4 linked regions of the Homo sapiens genome follow. The protein of the gene in region 2 purifies or fractionates together with the protein of the main gene of each other region. This does not show direct contact. Each region holds a gene or a part of one and is shown on either strand. Other genes may lie near its edges. The genes, in order: KPNA5, SREK1IP1, MAP1A and FSAF1.

Region 1 (3,570 bases), on a different chromosome or scaffold from region 2:
AAATGGATAAGTAATCACTGACACAAGAAGCTTGATAGAACCCTAATAAATCATTAAAAGCTTTGAGAGGAAGATTATTGCATAACTTATTTAAAACTAATGCAAAAAAATATCTTTCTAAAGACAAACCATTATGTGTCAGGCACTGTGCTAGACACACACACACACACACACACTTGATGTTCTTCACTAGAATACTACAAGTAAATGTTATTATTTTAGAGGAGGAAAGCCCATGTTCTTTAAAATACTTTTTCGGTATCTTTTTAAAAAGGAATCTTTTTTAGTAAAAGTGTTAACTTTTGTCCAAACTGGCTTCTTAGACCTTGCTGTTCTACTCTCAGATCTGAAGGGTAGTTACCTGAATCTGAGCTCTATTTCCAGCAGTGATGTTAGAAACAGTCCAGCAGGCTTCTTTTCTAATTGACTCCTTTGGGCTACTCAATAAATGTAAGAGACAGGGTAATGCAGAACAATTCAAAATTACCTAAAACAAGTTAGAAATGGAAACAAAAAGTTTTATAGTAAATAACCTATATGAAAATCTACTAATGAATTATTTAGATGTACAAAACCCATTCTAGAAAGTGAAATTAAGAAAGGAGAAATTCCTCCCAAAGTAAAACTTGCTGTCTTCTACACGTCTGCTATTGATAAACCTAGTCTCCTGCCACTATAAGGAACTGCCCTGTTCTCAACCCAATAAAATGAAAATCAGAGGTGTATCCTTCATATTTACAAATGTTCTCAGAGTTCAACTGATAAAACTGAAAAAAGATTTGGTGACCGAGGTCAGGATCCAACCTCTAGTTTTGCCAAATGAATTGGTGAAAAAAATACATATATCATACAGTCTGAGAAAATCCAATTCTACAACCATTAAAAACAGCATGTAGAATCAATTGGCTTCATAAAAATTTTTACTATCTTACTCTTCTTCTGTAAACAAGTATATTCTGCATTGTCCCTTTACATTCTTTATTCCATTGCAAGATTAATTATGTTCCTATATTCAAAATACTCCAATGATTTACATTAAATTCATCTGGTGAAGAAGTGTGGAGCAGTGCACTGGAAATCCAACTGAAAATTACAGTATATGTCTAGAATGGCATTTTCATTTCAAGAGCTATATTAAATGAATAACTGTCAATTACTAAAGAGCAACTATTTAATAACTATGATTAGTATCCAAATAGGCCTTTAAAAGGATAAAACTGAAAGAAAATATGTAGGTTAGAATAAAAAATACACTGTAAGGCGGTAAACAAAGGAGAATCTAACGTGTTAAATAATTTAAGTTTCTATCTTCAAGAAAGATTGTGCTGGACATACTGGCTCATGCCTGTAAGTCTAACGCTTTGAGAGGCCAAAGCAGGAGGATCACTTGAGCTCAGGAATTTGAGACCAACTTGGGCAACATAGCAAGACCCTGTCCCTAAAAAATAAATAAATAAATAAATTAGCCAGGTGTGGTGGTGCACACCTGCAGTCCCAACTACTTGGAAGGCTGAGGCGGGAGGACTGCTTGAGCCAGGAGGACTGCTTAAGCCAGGGAGGTAAAGGCTGCAGTGAGCCATGATCACACCACTGCACCCCAGCCTAGGAGAAAGAGCAATATCCTGTCTCTAACTAAACTAACTTACTAAATAAATAAAAAGATTGTAACCCAAATCTGGCTGGAGTCAATCTTGACAGCACATCTTCTTTGACATCTCACCATCCTCCAAGACACAGATACAGACACACACACAATTATGGTGATGCTAAAATCTTGATTAATATGTAATCAAGTTGTATGAAACATAAATTTTTTAAAGTCCTTTATGTTAACAATTTATGATACTCAAGTTTGAACTCACCTGTGTTTGAATATCATCACCAGTCACAATATTACCAACTGCCCTTAATGCAGGTGATACAACTTTATAATCATTGTGCCTAAAAATAATAAAAACATGAACCTAAATACTAGTAAGAATTTAAAATTTACACAGAAGTTACAAAAATACTACAAACTCCTGCGGGGTGTTCAGCCAAAGATCCCATTGAAGTTTTACTAATTATTCTGATAATCTTTATAACAAAGGATCTAATCCAGGATCGTTCATTACAGCCAGTTTTCATGTCTCTCCAGAATGATTTCTCAGTCTTCCCTTAATTTTCATGATTTTGCCATTTTTGAAGATCATAAGCCCATTATTTGGGTTTATCCAATGTTTTTCATGATTAAGACCCAGGTTATATACTTTGGCTGGGGGATATCGTAAGTGCTATAACCTTTTCATTATATCCCAATCTGTTTTTTCCCATTATATTGGTACTGAATTCTGGTCACTAATTATGATGATGTCTGCCAGACTTTTCCATTTTACCATTATTGTTTTCCCATTTATAATTAATATAATTAATATTTTGCAACAAAATACTTTGAGATAATGCAAAATCCCACTCCTTAACCTACTTTACCACTAGATTTTAGCATCTCTTGATGCTTATTATCTGAAGTATTGGTAATTATTAGTATTATTACCAGTGATGTATTTCTAATACTATCATTCTAACTACATGCTTTAGTGTGGACTTATGGGTTTCATATTTTATTCAATAAAATATACATTAATGCAATTTATTTCAAAGCACAAACTGTCCCAGGTTTGGATAGTGAGAACCCCTTCAAATAGGCTTCTGTGTTCTTTTGACATCTGTCCATTACTTGAGCACTCATTACTTCCTGCATTCATCTTACATTTTTCTCAGTCCCAGTCCTGAAACCAGTCATTTCTCCAACAATCTTGGTTCCTTTCAATGGAGAGTAGTGTTTAGAAACTTCGATTTGAACTTCAGTTTCCTCAGCTTATTAATGTAGAAGTGTTACTGTTCCCATGCCCTTCAAGAGGATGCACACACACATACCTACACACATGTATATATTTATTTCCATACCTAGCTATGTTAAGAGCCATGAGTTCACACTGATATTTCTAGTTCTAATCTAAAATAATTAAATTATTCAGGCTTTCTCCTCTTCTATATTTTTATCTCTATTCTCCGATAACAGGAAATAGCTTCTATTTTCCTAACCTCCCTATATCAGCCAATCTTTTACCTCAGCCAGACTGGTACCCCATGATGTGCTGGCTCCAAGTCCTGCTCCAGCCTGCTTATCTGCTCACCCCAGTGGGTGTCATTATCAAGTTGGGGCCCTGATCCCCCATGCTGAACCTGCATGCCCACCCTCCACTGATGCTATCCTCATGCTGGGACCCCCAACTCCTTATCAGACCTATCTTTGTGCCATCTACCTTGTTTGGGCCTACAATGGCTTCTCGACAAAAGAAGAAAGGAAGGAAGATAATACATTTTTTAAAGAGGGTAAGTAGATGAAGTTATGAAGTTACAACATCTTTTTAAAACAAGTTTTCTTCAACGTTTTTAACTTCTTTGTATAGAAAAGCTGTTCTTTTTAAGGAAAATAGCTATAACAGCCCAGCAAAGAGAAACATGTTATCTTTAATAGAGGTGAAATACTAAATGATTTTCACTACATGGACTTTTACTCAAATTAAT
Region 2 (3,570 bases):
TTTTAATAAAAAGATAAAACTGACATATCTTTAACTAGACTAACTCAGAAAAAAGACAGGGCCAAAATTAGAACTGAAAAAAGAGAGTATAAGTGATGTCACAGAAATATAAAGGGGTGTTATATAAATATATAACTATATAAGAGAATACAAGGAACATTTATATGTCAACAAATTGGGTAACTTACAAGAATACACTCCTTGAAACATAAAATGTATCAGGAGTGAATCATGAAGAAATCGAAAATAGGAACAGACCAGTAACAAGTAAAGACACTGGGTCAGTAATCCTCCCAGCAGAGAAAAGCCCAGGACTAGATGGCTTTGCTGGTGAAGTCAACCAAACATTTAAAGAGCAATTAAGCCAATTCTTCCAAAGCACTTCTAAAGAACTGGAGAGAAGAGATCACTTCCAAACTTATTTTACAAGGCTGGTATCACCCTGATACCAAAGCCAGACAAAGGTACCTTAAGAAAATAAAATTACAGACCAATACACCTGATGAACATATATGCAACAATCTTCAGCAAAATTCTAGCAAACCAAACTTAGCAGCACATTAAAAGGATCATACACTATGATCAAGTGGGATTCATCCATGGGACACAAGGATGGCTCAATATATGCAAATCCATAAATGTGAAACATCACATTAAGAAAGGAAGGCTAAAAATCAAATGAATATTTCAATAGATGCAGAAAGAGCATTTGACAATATATGTGCTCATGGATTGAAAGAATATTGTTAAAATGCCTACATTATCTAAAGCAATCTATGAATTCAATGGAATCCCTACCAAAATCCCAATGGCTCTTTTGACAGATATATAAAACATAATCCAAAAATGTATACGGAACCACAAAAGACCCCATACAGCCAAAGCAATCTTAAGAAGAACAAAGCTGTAGGCATCACATTCCTTGATTTCAAAATATATTACACAGCTATAGTAATTAAAATAGTATTGTACTGACATAAAGACAGACACATAGACCAATGTAACAGAATAGGAAGTCCAGGAATAAACCCATGCATATATGATGAACTGACCATGAGGGGTGTTAAGAACACACAATGGGAAAAGGATGTCTTCAGCAAATGGTCTTGGGTCAAGTGTATATCCACATACAAAAGAATAAAACTGTACCCTCACCTCATGCCATATATAAAAATCAACCTAAAATGAAGATATCTGAAAACAACTTTATTCTATTTTCACGCTTGGCTAATAATTTGGTTGAAAATATTATTCTGACTTGGATATAATTTCCCTTCCAAAATGTGAAGGCATTCCCCACATCTATTAGCTTTCAGGACTGCTTTAGAGAAGTGGAAAGCTATTCTGACTCCTGATCTTTGACAGATGACCTGTTTAATCCCTGATCCTGGAAGCCTGGATTATATTTTCCTTGTTCCCTGTGATATGAAGTTTTATAATGGTGTGCCTTTGTGTGGGTCTATTTTTAGCTCTGTGTTTGGTACTTGTGACACCTTTTCAACTGTAAAACTAATGTCCTTCAGTTCTTCGAAATTTTCTTTCTGGGACTCATTTGAGTGAAGTATTTCCTAGACTAATTGTGATATATGTCTGGGAACCAAATAGGTGAAGAAAGTTCTCAGCCTTTAACTTCCTCCCTGCTTTCAGCTATGGTTAGTGTGTCCCAGTCTAAAGAACCTATGTTTTACCCTCTCTAGAAAATAAACCTCCAGTAGTCTGCTGGGGTGATGAAGGGAAGTCATCTGACTTCATAGGGGAAGGGAACTGAGGGTCTAACTCGTGGAGACTTCAAACCAATCCTCCTGTTTTTAGCCTTATATTCAGCCAGAGGTACCCAAGGATACTAATTATCATGTCTTTAGGGGATTCTAGAATATATGTCGGGTTACTTCACAGCTTTCCACACTGCTGAAGAATTTAGCTTTTTCAAGAGTGTAATCAGTTATCACTCTTCTGCTTTTCAGTTTCCAAAATTTTACTGCTATTCCCTCCTAACTCAGTTTCTTTGCCCTTGTGAGTTTACGTCTTTAAATTTTTTTCTACTTCTGGCATTTTAGTGGTATTTCAGTAGAGAACAAAAGTGTGTGTATTCAATCAACTGTCTTTACCCTGAAGCTGTATATACTCATATATGATATGACTCTTGTTTGCCCTCTTTGGGATTCTCTCCCTCTTTTTCCTTTTCAGCTTGTTCTAGCACCTTACATTTGACTTCTTCACTTACCTTAACTGGACATAATATGGAAAGCTTGATATTAAAAACAAAGTTTACTGTTTAATGTTCATCGACAATCTAAACTAAAATGAATTTAAAATTTGTAACTCTCTCATTCCTTGTCTAAGATTATATTCAAATAAGTTATATTTTATTTCAGAGTGATATTTACCATAGTGCATTTTGTAGTTTACAAAGTAGTTTAATTTATGGCATCACGTTTAATCCCTAAAAACCCCACTGCAAGGATGAGCTATTTTATACACAACGTGGGAAAGAAAGGGTTAAATAACAGGTCCGCTATCCACTCTCTCTCTAGGGAGAGAGGAGGATGTGTCCAGGAAAGACAGAGAGTGACCTGGAGAAATCTCTCTGAAACACACTAACAATAGATCTCCTGGAAAAAAAATAAATGATATCTGTTAGCCATAGAACCCCTATTTATATAATTATCATTTACATCCTTTTAGTAGGATGTAACTGAGATTGCTTATGGTAAACAAACCTGGAATCTATAGATTTATGGGGCATAGCTCCCTGGAAAATGTAACTATCCAAGCATAAAATGAGTATGTTTCATGACCAAATCAACTTTCTTTGGTATAAGTAATAAAGAAACTTCTTATGTTAATATTGATCACAGTGGGTTATGAAGTAGAAAGGAAATACCTGGGGAGCTGTATTGGCATGCCCAGAACTCTCTGCTTTGCCTATGCCTCACGATCACTTGTATACTTGAAATTATTAGTGAAGCTTGATACTGGCTAAGATCACTGATCTGCATGAGCATCATTTGACAATCCAACATTTTGTGTTATCCCACAAGGCAGCTGAGCCTCAGGATGGTTAAGTCACTTGGTGAAAGTCATGTGCTAAAACAAATTGCCAAATAGGACTAGAAACCAAATCTTAAATCACACTTTTTCAGCCATTTGACACATATCCTAATGTGATGGGGGAAAAACAACAACAAAAAACATAAGCTGTGTGTCAGAAATAGACTTGCCTCCTGGATCTGTAATTGCTTAGCTGTTCAATCTTAGGCAAATAACTTACAATATTTAAAACCTATTTCCTATGCAGTAGCTCTTACATAAACTATAAAAGAGATCTTAGTAAGTATAATGGAAAGCATGATATAATATGACAGAACATTTACAAACATTTCTAAAGAATGGAAAAAAATATTGCTTACTTTTTTCCTGTAATGCCTGCAATTTATTCAGTTCTTCATTCTCTTCATCGCTATCTTCACTACTTGTACTGCTGACATCCAAAACTATGTCCCTTTTAGGGTCTACTCGGAGAAAATTGCGGCATTCAAAAGTCAGGTGACCAGCTAAGTGAAACAAACA
Region 3 (3,570 bases), on a different chromosome or scaffold from region 2:
ATGGCACATAGTCCAAGCCCTGCGTAGCTTCAGTACGGGAGGAAGGGATGCTTGTGACTGTGTCAAGCAGCAGGGAGCTCTTGCCTGTCTCCTCTGTCTGGGGAGCTGTAAGTGAGGCCACAGATTGGTCCTCAGCCACTGATGTGGCAAAGGAAGAAAGTTTGTCACACTCAGTGATTGAAGTGGCCGAGGACACATGTTCCTCTTCAGCCAAAGGGGCAGCCACTATGTTAGTGGGGTAGGTGAGTTCAGTCTCTGGCGTTCCATAGACTTTGCCAGAGGTAGCAGGAACAGCACTATCGGCAGGTTGGCTGGCTTCGAATGGGCCAGCACCTTCAGGCCCGGGCAGGTCATATGTACTTGTATGAAATCTGGGTGGAGCTGGGCGCTCCTCCGGCTCATCATGGATCTCCTCATCTGAGATGGTCTGCTCAGTCTCTGAGTAGCCAGGGATTGTCTCATCCTGGATGTAAGAGACATGCTCAGTGGCTCCTGCAGGTGTGGTCAGGCTGCTTAGGAATAACGAGGTCTCCTTCTCAGGGGCCTTGCCCTGGAGTCCCAATTCCCGACCCCCAAAAGCCTCCCGGCTCCTTGGAGTTACCTTCAAGGGTTCCTGCATATGTTTTTGGTAAAAACCCTCAGCTTTTGTCGCGTCCTCTTCCTCCTCATCTGAAGGGTGTACCTCCTCCATTTCTTCTAACTCAGCCTTTTCTATCACATCCTCCTTTACTTCAGGTTCACTTTCCTCTCTGGCTTCTGTTCTGTCTGGGAGCCTCTCTGCTTCCCTCTGCTTCTTTTCCTCCCAGGTATCTTTCTCTTCCTCTGTTTCAGCCCCAGAGTCTAGGCCTCTGTCCTTGCTGCCTTGTTCCTCAGGGACCTCTGGGACAAGCTCTTTCTCCTTCATCACATGTTCTTCTTGTCCCAGCCCTGGAACAGAGGGTGGTGTTCCCTGGATAGCTGTACTTGGGGGTCCCTCCTCTGCAGTGTCTAGAGGGAATGGCTTATCTCCTAGTCCTGTGTCCCTTTGTTCAGCCAGCAAAGCCCTCTCCTCACGCTTCATCTCCTCAAAGTCCTGTGTGAGGTCCTCTGGTGAGGATAGGACCAGCTCCCTGTGCCCACTGATGGTTGGGAGTGGTACAGTTCCCTTCTGGGCTGGGGGTGTCTGGGGCTCAGAAGACAGCTCCTTCTCCCCACGGATAGCACGGCTCCTGTCTATTTTGACTCTTCCAGGGACCTTGGCTTTATAGAGGGTCTTACGTACCTCAGGAGTAAAGGGCTTTAGGTCTGGCTTGGAAATCTTCTTGAGCTCAGGTTTGGTATCTTTCCTCTTCTCCTCCTTCTTGGCATCCTTCTTCTCCTCCTTCCTTCCTTCATCCTTCTTGAGCTCTTTCCTCTCCTTTTTGATCTCTTTTTTCTCCTTGTCTTTTTTTTCTTCCAGCTTTGATATCTTTTCTTTAAGGTGCTTTTTCCCTACCTTGTCTTTGATCAGCTTTCGCTTCTCTGCCTTCAGTGCCTCACTTGACTCTGTCTTCACCCTCTCAGGCTTGGCAGGCTTCTCTGGGGGCTTCTCAGATGACTCTTTTGCCTTCTTCTCTGTCTTGGCTAACTCCTTGGCCAGCTCTGAACGTGCCTCCTTGGCTCCCTCTTCTACCACCTCCTCCCGTTTGGCCAACTTGCTCACGGCCGTCTTGGTAGTGGCTTTGAGGCTCTCCTTGCTATCAGCCCGCTGTTTGATTTTGCTGGGCTTGAGGTTGGTAGGCACAGCCCCAGAAGCCAGGTCCTTCTGCGTGGCCACAGGGTAACGCAGGAAGTCCAGATGCCGAAGCTTTTCTAGGCCCTCCAAGATCTTGTTTTGGGGAGCATTTCCTGGAAAAAGCACACGCACAATCTTCTCAGTGGGATTGGCTGGTAGCCAGACCACCAGAGCAGTGATAGAGGTAAGGTAGGGCACGGAGATCTCAGCCTCCTTCCCATTGGGCAGCACGATGCCTGTCTTGGCTTTACTATTGCCTGCCCACTTTTGCATGAGGAACTGCATCTCCTTGCTGTCCTTGACAGGGTTGAGGACATACATGTCCAGCCGGCCCACACCCATTTTGTGGAAGAGGGTCAGTGGCTCAATGGTATTGCTGACCACACGATATAGAGGCTCAGCCTGGATGCCCAGGCGGTTTAAGTGCTGCAGAGTGAGGCAGGCCTCCTCAATGCTACGCTTGGCTTTCCGGGAGGCATCAGGAAGCCGCAGCTTCTCAGGCACGTTGAAAAAGACAACTCCAAGCTCAGGAGAGATAAGGTTCTTCACCCAGTCGCTGTAACTGCTAGAGCCCTGGGACTGCTCCTCCTCTAGCTCTGCCACTTTGCGCTGCAGTAGTCCATTGATGCCTGGCAGGTTGTCTGCCCCAATGTGTGTGAGTAGCACCGAGTCAATGCGGTCCAAGTGCCGTACCAGCTTCCAAAAACAGGACTTGCGATCAGAGCCACCATCCACCAGGATGTTGAAACCATTGACAGCAAAGAGGGCAGAGTCCCCACGACCACCTGGGAAGATGTAGCAACAAGGCTTGGAGAGCTTGAGGAAGCCCCCTGAGGTGGGGGGCTCTAGTAGGTCAAATGGGGATGGCACGTCCACAGTCTCAGAGACATACTCGGAGAACTCAGCCACGCCGTCCATGGTGGGCAGAGTGGGCTCAGGGTTTAGCCGGAGGTGCAGGGTCTCTTGGGAACTGGATAATCCCAGGTGGCTCCAATCACCTTCCCCTAAGCAGGACACGGTAAGGAAGGCCTGTATCCCAGGGTCTCTATTGCTGAGCAATTGGGAAATCTAGAAGAATAGGAGATAGAAACCTGATCAGGTCACTAGAGTTGTTTTGGTCTGACTTAGATTCAGTACCCTAATCTTCACCTCTTTCCAAGGTGGACTCTTACCTTTCTGCCAGGGCCCCCCATGGTCATGCAATATGAGACTTTCCCTTAGATCCCTCCCACAGCTCTAGTGCTACCCTTTCTCCCAGACACTCTGGCATGGAACTTACCTCGGGGTTGTGAAGGACCTGGGCAAAGTTTTCATATGAGTAGGTGCCACTCTGTAGGATGAGGTCTCCCCCAGGCTCTAAACTTTGCCCACTCAAGATTAGTAGTTTATAAGCTGATGAGCTGCTAAGAAGATGATGAACCTGGAATGGAAGAAGGGGAGTGGTCACAGATATAGGAAATCCAGGGAAAGGCAATGAATGGCCCCTCAGTACCTCAAGAACATGCTCCCAACTTATGTCCCTCATAACACCTCCAGAGTGGGCTGGAGACAATACGTCAGCTTAGATGGCAGAGAGAGGAATTCTTGGCCTAATAGTGGTAGCACTGGCAAGGGTGGGTATAGCACTTGCACCAGGCCTGTTTGGCAAGGCACAGGCCCTGGCCTTACCTCAGAGCTGATGCTGTCTGCACTGGGATTTACCAGGATGATGGTCTCTAGGATCTCACTCTGGTGGCAAAGGGTCCTCTGGCCTGAGGGAGAGATGTAGGAATTTATATTGAGAATAGGTATAGAAATTGTGGTGCAGGAGAGGAAAG
Region 4 (3,570 bases), on a different chromosome or scaffold from region 2:
CTCATGCCCTTGCATGAAATTCTTTGGTGGCTTCTCATGTACTTAAGACTAAAGTCCCAAGGCTCACTACTGCCTATGAGACCTGGCAAGGGCTGGTCTCAGCCTGTCTCTCTTGTATTAGCACCAACCATTCTCCCTTCTGTCCTAGTCTTGCTAGACTTCTTCCAGCTCCTTGAACACACCAGGCCTCTTCATACCCCACAATGTTAGCAAGGCTGTTTTCTCCCTCCTTGGCTCACTCTTCCCTGCCCCATTCACCAGCACCATTTAATACAGCATTAGCCTGAATGTTACCTCCTGAGAGACCTCCCTGACCACTACATCTAGACCAGGTTCTGCATGGTACTCCAGGACCCTATTTGTTTATAATTCTTTCTAATTATATTGCTCAACTCCAAAGTAGATTGTACAGTATACTCCATAAAGGCAAAGCACTATTATCTTCTTCACTGCTCCATCTGCAAGGTCTGCAGACAGCAGGCACCCAGTGATTGGTGGAATAAATGGAGGAATGAATATGTGATCCCATACTATTTCCAGCCAAATTACTTGTATAGTCACTACATTAAAAATGGGACATGGGCCGGACGCAGTGGCTCACGTCTGTAATCCTAGCACTTTGGGAGGCCAAGGAGGGCAGATCACGAGGTCAAGATCGAGACCATCCTGGCCAACATGGTGAAACCCCATCTCTACTAAAAATACAAAAGTTAGCTGGGCATGGTTGTGTGCACCTGTAGTCCCAGCTACTCAGGAGGCTGAGGGAGGAGAATCGCTTGAACCCGGGAGGCGGAGGTTGTAGTGAGCTGAGATCAGGCCACTGCACTCCAGCCTGGTGACAGGGCAAGACTCCATCTCAAAAAAAAAAAAAGGGACATGATGGCTGGGCACAGTGGCTCTCACACCTGTAATCCCAGTGCTTTGGGAGGCTGCGGCAAAAGGACTTCTTGAGATCAGTGGTTCAAGACCAAGCCTGGGCAACAAAACAAGACCCCAACTCTACAAAAAATTTTAAAATGAGCCAGGCATAGTGGTGTGCCCTATAGTCTTAGCTACTTGGGAGGCTGAGGCAGGAGGATGGCTTGGGCCCAGGAATTGGAGGCTGCAGTGAGCTATGATCACACCACTGCATTCCAGCAGGAGTGACAGAGTGACACCCTGTCTCTAAACATAAAAAAATATATATAAATGGTGGCCAAGTTCCGAGATGACCCCATGAAAACCTGCTTCAATGCACGATGCAGCTTAATCATAGAATTTATAGCACAAGTTCTGGAAAAATAGGGTAATTTCCTGGGTCTAGGCAGGGCCAGCTGGATTGTTGTCCAACTCACCATCCCCTTCTTCCTTTCTCAAGCATTCTCTAAAAATGACCAGCTGATGCTATGATTGGTCATGGAGATTACCATTACCCATCATATATTTTTGCCACCCATGTCTGTTTAACTGTCCTACAATGGCTTAGAAGTTTTTAGAGAACAAGGGCACAACTATACTTTCCCATGTTACACAAACTCAGCACAGCTGGTGTATTCCAATTAGCACCAGTTGGCTGACTACCCTTTAACTTGGCATACCCAGGATATGCCATAAGAACTAGCATTATATTCATGTGTATTTATTTCCACACCGCAATGTCAACATTCTGAGGTCATTTTACAGGTGTATGTGTTTTTAATGTGTCCACATTCTGTTTCCTTAACCAGACACACTCACATTTTCAAAGGACACATTTAAAAAAAAAACAAGAGGAAAGGGCAGAGAGCAGCAATGACAAATGAAAATTTTCATTAAGGTCAGGAAGTTCAAAACGTAGAGTGAGCTGAGGCTCCTGAGAAGAGCCAACTAGAATGCATCAGGGCTCGCTTGGAACGGGAAGCAAAAGACAATTTGACAGACTGCCACAGATGTTCTATTATTAAGCAACAGGGAAATGCAGACTCATTCAATCCCAACTCTTCTGTCTTTTCTATTAAAAAGAAAACTTTCCATTCCAGAAAAAAGAACATGAGGGAATATAAGAGGAAACTGAAGTCTGAGACATTTGAAGAAACAAGAAAGGGTGCCTAAATGCTTTATGTTAGTTGAAGTCTTCAAATGCTGAATTATATTGCAAAGCAGTGCTCACCAACATTTTTCATATCATGACACATACAGAAAATACCAGTATTTGTAGGGTACACTGGGGTACTGGGAGATGGCCAGCTTCGGGGCTCTGGTTGCCCCAAACACCAAGGGAATCCATTTCTTGACCCTCCCGTAACAGTTCCCAGAGCCTTATATTTGGAACATAAGAGTTAAGAAGCTTATCTAGAATCCTAAAATAAAGGTAGACATGGTTACAGATTCACTAATAATCTTTTTTTTTTTTTTTGGAGAAAGGGTCTCGCTCTGTCACCCCCGCTGGAGTGCAGTGACACAATCACAGCCCACTGCAGTCTCGACTTCCTGAAGTCAAGCAATCCTCTGGCCTTGGCATCCCAAAGTGCTCGGATTACTGGCGTGAGCCACCACGCTCAGCCTGCAGAATGCGCTAACGATCTTTGAGGAAGAGATGCCAGCAAGCTTGATATGAAATGCTACCTGAATTTTAGAAAAGATTATACAGATGGTTTTTAAAACCATAAAGATGTGGCAAACACTGGACACTAACATACATTTATACATTCATAAAGAACAATGCAAGCCAAACCATCTTCGTAGTGGGTAGAATTGTGGCCTCTAAAAACATATGGCCATGTCCTACTCCTCTTCAGAACCTGTGAATGTGATCTTACTTGGAGAGGGATCTTTATAATTAAACATCTCAAAAGGAGATCATCCCAGATTCAGGGTGGGCCTAAAGCAAAGAGGAAGGCAGAGGGAAACATGAGACTCAGGGACACAGGGATGAAAACCACATTAAGACGGAGGCAGAGATTATAGTTATGCAACCACAAGCCAAGGAAACTGTTAGAGCTACCTTCTGGTCAGAGGCAAAGGATTCTCCCCCAAAGCCCTCAGAGGGAGCATGGCCCTGCCAACACTTTGATTTTGGACTTCTGGACTACGGAACTGTAAGAGAATACATTTCTGTTGGTTTAAGTCACCATGTTTGTGGTAATTTGTTATAGCAGGCTTAGAAACTAATACGTTCAATCCTCACTTCTTTGTTGATAGACAAAGGTTTGCAGGACGTGGGGGATGTTACAGAAATGGAATAGCAATGAATTTGTCAAAGCCATTATGATATTCTTGTGAATAGATAAATTAAAAACATTTGGGGCCAGGCGCAGTGGCTCACGCCTGTAGTCCCAGCATTTGGGGAAGCCAAGGCGGGCAGATCACGAGGTCGGGAGATCAAGACCATCCTGGCTAACATGGTGAAACCCTGACTCTACTAAAAATACAAAAAACTAGCCAGGCGTGGTGGCAGGCACCTGTAGTCCCAGTTACTTGGGAGGCTGAGGCAGAAGAATGGCATGAACCTGGGAGGTGGAGCTTGCAATGAGCTAAGATCGTGCCACTGCACTCCAGCCTGGGCAACAGAACGAGACTCCGTCTCAAAAAAAAAAAAAATTAAAAACATTT

The links.
Region 1: the proteins of SREK1IP1 (region 2) and KPNA5 purify together in Homo sapiens (affinity purification with mass spectrometry; 2 studies listed by BioGRID and IntAct, with this or other methods). This does not show direct contact.
Region 3: the proteins of SREK1IP1 (region 2) and MAP1A purify together in Homo sapiens (affinity purification with mass spectrometry; 2 studies listed by BioGRID and IntAct, with this or other methods). This does not show direct contact.
Region 4: the proteins of SREK1IP1 (region 2) and FSAF1 purify together in Homo sapiens (affinity purification with mass spectrometry; one large-scale study listed by BioGRID and IntAct). This does not show direct contact.

The regions. Positions count from the first base shown.
Region 1 is NC_000006.12:116,722,668-116,726,237, reverse strand, and holds part of KPNA5 (importin subunit alpha-6), read right to left. Parts: exon of another isoform or gene 2,914-3,570; intron 1,942-2,913; coding exon 1,863-1,941; intron 488-1,862; coding exon 362-487; intron 1-361. UniProt on the Homo sapiens protein: Functions in nuclear protein import as an adapter protein for nuclear receptor KPNB1. Binds specifically and directly to substrates containing either a simple or bipartite NLS motif.
Region 2 is NC_000005.10:64,737,647-64,741,216, forward strand, and holds part of SREK1IP1 (protein SREK1IP1), read right to left. Parts: intron 3,555-3,570; coding exon 3,411-3,554; intron 1-3,410. UniProt on the Homo sapiens protein: Possible splicing regulator involved in the control of cellular survival.
Region 3 is NC_000015.10:43,520,575-43,524,144, reverse strand, and holds part of MAP1A (microtubule-associated protein 1A), read right to left. Parts: intron 3,505-3,570; coding exon of another isoform or gene 3,422-3,504; intron 3,174-3,421; coding exon of another isoform or gene 3,033-3,173; intron 2,822-3,032; coding exon of another isoform or gene 2,672-2,821; coding exon 1-2,671. UniProt on the Homo sapiens protein: Structural protein involved in the filamentous cross-bridging between microtubules and other skeletal elements.
Region 4 is NC_000001.11:231,234,638-231,238,207, forward strand, and holds part of FSAF1 (40S small subunit processome assembly factor 1), read right to left. Parts: intron 1-3,570.